Linked DNA regions of Homo sapiens. Changing the gene in region 2 together with the main gene of any one other region gives a genetic interaction. Each region holds a gene or a part of one and is shown on either strand. Other genes may lie near its edges.

The links. Genes that interact genetically often act in the same process or in processes that back each other up.
Region 1: changes in CENATAC (region 2) and EXOSC9 together harm fitness less than expected from each alone (positive genetic interaction), as found in Homo sapiens cells (one large-scale study listed by BioGRID).

Annotation. Positions count from the first base shown.
Region 1 is NC_000004.12:121,807,823-121,811,322, forward strand, and holds part of EXOSC9 (exosome complex component RRP45), read left to right. Parts: intron 1-2,144; coding exon 2,145-2,277; intron 2,278-3,500. UniProt on the Homo sapiens protein: Non-catalytic component of the RNA exosome complex which has 3'->5' exoribonuclease activity and participates in a multitude of cellular RNA processing and degradation events.
Region 2 is NC_000011.10:119,008,138-119,011,637, forward strand, and holds part of CENATAC (centrosomal AT-AC splicing factor), read left to right. Parts: intron 1-2,626; coding exon 2,627-2,693; intron 2,694-3,083; coding exon 3,084-3,146; exon of another isoform or gene 3,147-3,174; intron 3,175-3,500. UniProt on the Homo sapiens protein: Component of the minor spliceosome that promotes splicing of a specific, rare minor intron subtype. Negative regulator of centrosome duplication.

The DNA.
Region 1 (3,500 bases), on a different chromosome or scaffold from region 2:
GATACTTCCCAACATTTTTCTTTTCATGGGATACTTATAAACTTAGGAATTTACTATGGCATGGTAGTGTTTTATGTTTCCTAAGGCTGTACAGTGGTTAAGAGAATTATATGCTAGGCTCTAATTTGGGACAGTGGGGTGAGAATTACTGTGGGTTATTGGAAGATAGGGGACTTTGGAACATATTAGATGGAGTAGTTCTAGGAGTCGGTTACAAGGGGGGATGGTTCACAGACTGGAGGAAAAAAATCTAATGTTCTTAAGTTTTCCAGCGTTTTCATTACTTAACTGCTAAATCCTCCTGTGGCAGAAAACTTGGAGTTTTTCAGGTCCATTTAATGGTGCTTTCAAATGAAAACTTGAGCCTTAAATTCCTTTAGAAACAAGGGAAGATAAAAATATTTCACACAGTGTTGTGCACAAGGACTAGAGAAACACTTACAAGTTTTAGTGATTGTAAGTGTAGAGTTTTATCAGAGGAAAATGGGCCAGCATTGTCCAGTAGAAATAAAATGTGAACCATATATATAATTTTCTTATTTTCTTCTTTTTTTTGAGATGAGGTCTGGCTTTGTTGCCCAATTTGGATTTCAGCAGCGTGATTTTTGCTCATTACAACCTCTGCTTTCTGGGCTCAATGAATTCTTCAGCCTCAGCCTTCCGAGTAGTTGAGACTACAGGCATGCACCACCATGCCTAGCTAATTTTTGTATTTTTTTTGTAAAAAAGAGGTTTTGCCATATTGCCCAGGCTGGTCTGGAACTCCTGAGTTCAAAAGTGATCTAGCTACCTCAGCCTCCCAAAATGCTGGATTACGGGGATGAGCCACCATGCCTGGCTGTTTCTTTTTCTTTTCTTTTCTTTTTTTTTTTTAAGACAAGGTCTCCCTCTGTCACCCAGGCTTGAGTGCAGTGGCGTGATCATGTTTTATTGCAGCCTCAACCTCTCAGGCTCAAGTGATTCTCCTGCCTCAGCCTCCTGAGTAGCTGGGACCACAGGTGCACACCATGCCCAGCTAATTTCTTTATTTTTTGTAGAGATGGGATTTCACTACGTTGCCCAGGATGGTCTGAAGCTCCTGGGCTCAAGTGATCCGCCTATCTCCACCTCCCAAAGTGCTAGGATTATAGGCTTGAGCCACCATGCGCAGCATTTGTTACTTTTTAAATTTTTTTTTTATTTTTTTGTGACAGGGTCTCACTCTCACCCAGGCTGGAGTGCAGTGGTGTGATCATAGCTCACTGCAGCCTACTTCTGAGCTCAAGTGATCCTCCCACCTCAGCCTTCCAAGTAGCTGGGACTATAGGTGTGTGGCATACCCAGCTAATTTAAAAAAATTTTTTTTGTAGAGACAGGGTCTCACTTTGTTGCCCAGGCTGGTCCCAAACTCATGAGCTCAAGTGATCTTGCAGTCCTGACCTCCCAAAGTGCTGGGATTACAAGCATGAGCCACCATGCCTGGCCTCATATGTGTAATTTAATATTTTCCAGTAGTCACATTAAAAAGGTAAAATTAATTTTTATATATTTTTAATTAATATATTTTCACGTTAATGAAATAAAATGATTAATGAAATAATCAGTATTTTAATAATTACTCATGAGATAGTCTACATTCTTTTGTTTCCACTAAGTCTCTGAAATCCAATATTTTACATACTCTGATTACATTTCAAGGGCTCAGTAACCACAGGTGACTATTGGCAAATGTACCGGACAGTGCAGAAATAGACAGTATTTTTTTCATGAGCCATTAGCAGAACGCAGTAGAACTTTGGAGTACAGGACATTAGGGCAACTTTAGGGTTAACCAATTTAACATTATCTAAGTTTTTATTAATGAGCCAGAAGTCATTTAATCAAAGAGATAGCATTAGGTTTAGATTATATATCATTTAAGTAAATCCAATCTGAACTTAATGTGATTTCATTGTAATAACTAGAGATACCCACTTAGCATTCATTTGTGTTCATAAACACAATAATTTTCTTGTCTCTTTCCCCATTTCAGTGACCCAAATCCGTAGGCTCAGACCTTTATTCTCTGTTGACTTTATTGATGCCATCTTTTAAAAATTCATTACCCAAGAAATGGTAAGCATTCGGTCTCAGATTTGTTCAGGTCCATTTAACATTCATTTCAGAACATATTTATTGGTGGATCCCAATGAACGAGAAGAACGTGTGATGGATGGCTTGCTGGTGATTGCCATGAACAAACATCGAGAGATTTGTACTATCCAGTCCAGTGGTGGGATAATGCTACTAAAAGATCAAGTTAGTGCTTTGATTAATGTCCCATTAATAATAGGTTGCTTCTCTTTAGATGCTTTTTCTTGTCTTTTAACAAAAATCCAATGGGGATACTTCCAGTGATTTATTCTAGGATGTGTTAGAATCTGGTTTCAGTACTGTCACTATTAAATACATTCTGTTGACTGGTGGCTATGAGGTATCCTCCTCCTTCCTACCTTGGTGCTCCCGTGTCTGGCCTGCTGGAGTCTGACCCTTCCACCTAGAAGCAGGGTCTAGTGAAGAAAAAGATTTATATCCCTATTAAAAAAAAAAAAAAAGTGGCCGGGCATGTTGGCTTACGCCTGTAATCCCAGCACTTTGGGAGGCCGTGGCTGGTGGATCACTTGAGGTCAGGAGTTCAAGACCAGCCTGGCCAACATGGTGAAACCCATCTCTACTAAAAATACAAAATTAGCTGGGTGTGGTGGCTGGCGCACGCCTGTAATCCCAGCTACTTGGGAGGCTGAGGCAGGAGAATTGCTTGAATCCGGGAGGCAGAGGTTGCAGTGAGCTGAGATCGTGCCATTGTTCTCCAGTCTGGGCAACAACAGCAAAATTCCATCTGAAAAAATAAAAAATAAAATAAATAAATAAATATTAGCCGAGCTTGGTGGTGCATGCGTGTGGTCCTGGCCACTTGGGAGGCTGAGGTGGGAGGATTGCTTGAGCCTAGGAGGTGGAGGTTGAGTGAGCTGAGATCGTGTCACTGCATTCCAGCCTGGGCTACGGAATGAGACCCTGTCTCAAAAGCAAATAAAAATTTTTAAACATCCAATAGTAGACATTATGTAAAAAGATAGTTTTACTTGCACTTTTAGAACTACAATTGGCAGTAGTTCTGAAACCCAGCTATATATCATATTCACATGGGAGCTTTTAGAAAATAGATCTCCATATAGCATACAGTGTAGATGATTAAAAGCTTCTTTAGTTTGAATTCTAGTTCTGCCCCCATACTAGCTGATCTTGGGCAAATGATTTTATATCTTTGGGTCTCACTTTCTTTATCTGTAAAATAGGGAATGATGTTATTGCCAACACCTTGTTGTTATAAGGATATAAATATATTGCACAGTGTCTAGCACACATTTATTAAGTGTGCAATAAATGTTAGTTTCTGGTATCATCATCATCATCTTTACCAGCATCACAAGTACTACCCAGATTACCCACAGAAAAAGGAAGTTAGTGCATCCTGGAGCATA
Region 2 (3,500 bases):
TTCTAGTCGGGTGGGATGAGAGACGGAGAAAAGAAATAAGACACAGAGACAAAGTATAAAGAAACAACGGTGGGTCCAGGGGACTGGTGCTCAGCACACCAAGGACCTGCACCGGCACCGGCCTCTGAGTTCCCTCAGTTTTTATTGATTATTATTTTTCATTATTTCAGCAAAAAGGAATGTAGTAGGACAGCAGGGTGATAATAAGGAGAAGGTCAACAAATTACATGTGAGCAAAAGAATGTATATCACGATTAAGTTCAAGGGAAAGTACTATGCCTGGACGTGCACGTAGGCCAGACTTATGTTTCTCTCCACCCAAACATCTCAGTGGAGTAAAGACTACAAGGCAGTATCACTGTAAACATGTCTCGCCTCCCGCCACAGGGCAGCTTTTCTCCCATCTCAGAGTTGAACAAATGTACAATCGGGTTTTAAGCCGAGACATTCAGTTCCCAGGGGCAAGCAGGAGATAGTGGCCTTCCTCCATCTCACCTGCAAGAGGCTTTCCTCTTTTACTAATCCACCTCAGCACAGACCCTTTACAGGTGTCGGGCTGGGAGACAGTCAGGTCTTTCTCATCCCACGAGGCCATATTTCAGACTATCACATGGAGAGAAACCTTGGACAATACCCCGCTTTCAAGGGCAGAGGTCCCTGCGGCTTTCCACAGTGCATTGTGCCCCTGGTTTATTGAGACTAGAGAATGGCAATGACCTTTACCAGATGTACTGCTTGTAAGTATTTTGTTAACAAGGCACGTCCTACACAGCCCTAGGTCCCTTAAACCTTGATTTTATACAACACATGTTTTTGTGAGCTCCAAGTTGGGTCAAAGTGGCTGGGTCAAAGTGGCTGGGACAAAGCTACAAATCAACAACATCTCAGCAAAGCAACTGTTTAAAGTACAGGTCTTTTTCAAAATGGAGTCTCTTATGTCTTTCCTTCCTACATAGACACAGTGACAGTCTGATCTTTCTTTCTTTTCCCTACAACTTATTATTATTTTTGAGACAGAGTCTTGCTCTGTCACTGGCCTGGAGTGCAGTGGCCCGATCTCGGCTCACTGCAACCTCCACCTCCGAGGTTCAAGCAATTCTCGTCTCAGCCTCCCAAGTAGCTGGGATTACAGGCACCTGCCACCACATCTGGCTAATTTTTTGTGTTTTTGTAGAGACAGGGTTTCACTATGTTGGCCAGGCTGGTCTTGAACTCCTGGCCTCTTGATCCACCCGTCTCGGCCTCCCAAAGTGCTGGGATTACAGGCGTGGGCCACACCGCGCCTGGCTTAAATGATTTTTTAAAACTAAGTGGCTTAATATTCTGCAATTTTAATCTGAGAGGGGTGGAACAGAAAGCCCCATACCTCATCAGAACCTGGGAGTTGATGAGAAACCATTTGATGACAACCTCCTAGGGGAGATGGGGAGGGAAGTGGGAGATGGCCTCATAGCAGCTTCTGGCAGACCTTCCACCCTCGTGTTCCAGGAGGATTAAACAAGCCTTTCAGCCACAATTCGGTAAGGTGTGGCTCAAGCCATTGTCTCCTTGGATATATTCAAGGCTCTCAGGGAACACTGTTGATAGTGGTATTGGTATTATACTGAAACTTTGTGTTGAGAACCAGGGTTTTGAGAACCAGGGTTTTCACTATGGCAAAAGGAAGATACAAGTAAGGAATGGAGGCATTTGAATAGGGAGGTGACAGTACAAATTACTGATTTAAGGCCAGGCATAGTGGCTGATGCCTGTAATCCCAGTTCTTTGGGAGGCCAAGGCAGGAGAATTGCTTGAGCCCAGGAGTTCGAGACCAGCATGGGTGACATGGCAAAACCCTGTTTCTACAAAAAACACAAAAATTAGCCAGGCATAGTGGTGCTGTCCTGTAGTCCTACCTACTCAGGAAGCTAAGGCAGGAGGATCTCTTGAGCCTGGGAGCCTCTTGAGCAGAGGTTGCAGCGAGCTGAGGTTGTGCCACTGCACTCCAGCCTAGGCAACAGAGCGAGCCCGTCTCAAAAAAAAGACAAAGAAATTTAGGACAGTATGCAAGATTTGGCCTGGATTCTTCTGAGGATGTGAAGTAATGGAAACAGTAAGACTGTTCCAGACTAGGGGAAGACTAGAGACCTAATAGCTGGATTCCATGTGATCTTTTGTTGGACTTTGGGATTGGAGGTGAGAGTAGAGAAGGCATAATGCACGTTTTTGAGACGAGGGAAATGTGAATATAGCCTGTATGCCTACACTCAAGTCTGAAGACATGTAAACCATGTCTATACTAACCAGCCAAATATTTGAACACTAAAAGGAAGAATTTTCTTAATGTGGTAATGGTATCATGGTTGTATAGAATGTTCCTCCTCTTGGGAGATGTGTGTTGAAAATAGGGTTTGACGTCTAAACCTATTTTGTTTTGGCAAAAAGGACGTGTGTCTGTACAAAAGAAGTGGAGCCAGTATGGCAAAATGTTTACAAGGACTCTGGGTGAGAGGTACATAGGTGCTTACTATACTGTTTTGTTTCTGAATTTGGAATTTCTCAAAATTAAAAAAATATCTACTGAGGAGCTTTTCGTTTTAACTGGTGGGGAATGGGTTCTGGGTGGTTTTGCCCCTTTTCTTTTTAGATTCAAGAAATCCATGGTGAAAGGTTTGGATTCCTATGAAGAAAAGGAGGATAAAGTGATCAAGGAGGTAAGTTAAAGTAGCAGTCCCTCACCCTTTTTGCACCAGGGGCTGGTTTCGTGGAAGACGGTTTTTCCACAGATGGACCCAGGCAGGGGATGGTTTCAGAATGAGACTGCTCCACCTCAGATCATCAGGCACTAGATTCTCATAAGGAGCACGCAACCTAGATACCTTGCATGCCCAGTTCACAATAGTGTTTGTGCTCCTATGAGAATGTAACACCACCACTGATCTGACAGGAGCTCAGGCGGCAGTGCTGTTGCAGCCTGCTTCCTGACAGGCCACAGACCAGTACTGGTCCACGCCTGGGGGTGGAGGGCCCAAGTTAAAGGAAAGGCCTCTGAAGAAACTGGCCCCCATGATCCTGTACCTGTCTAAGCAGCCTCTCTCCCACAGATGGCAGCTCAGATCCGTGAGGTGGAGCAGAGCCGACAGGAGGTGGTTCGGTCTGTCTTAGAGGTTGGTTTCCCTCGGAGGATCCAGACCAGTATCCAAATCCACTGATCCCTGGCATTCCCAGGTCCAGCATTTCATGGACTAGTGCTTCTTCTTCTTCTTTTTTTTTTGGAGACAGAGTTTCGCTGTGTCACCCAGGCTGGAGTGCAGTGGCACGATCTCGGCTCACTGCAACCTCCACCTCCCAGGTTCAGGTTCAAGCGATTCTCCTGCCTCAGGCTCCCGAGTAGCTGGGATTACAGGTGCCGCCACCACGCCTGGCTAATTTTTATATTTTTAATAGAGGTGGTGTTTCACCATGTTGGCCAGGCTGGTCTTGAACTCCTGACCTCAGGTGATCCACCCGCCTCAGCCTGC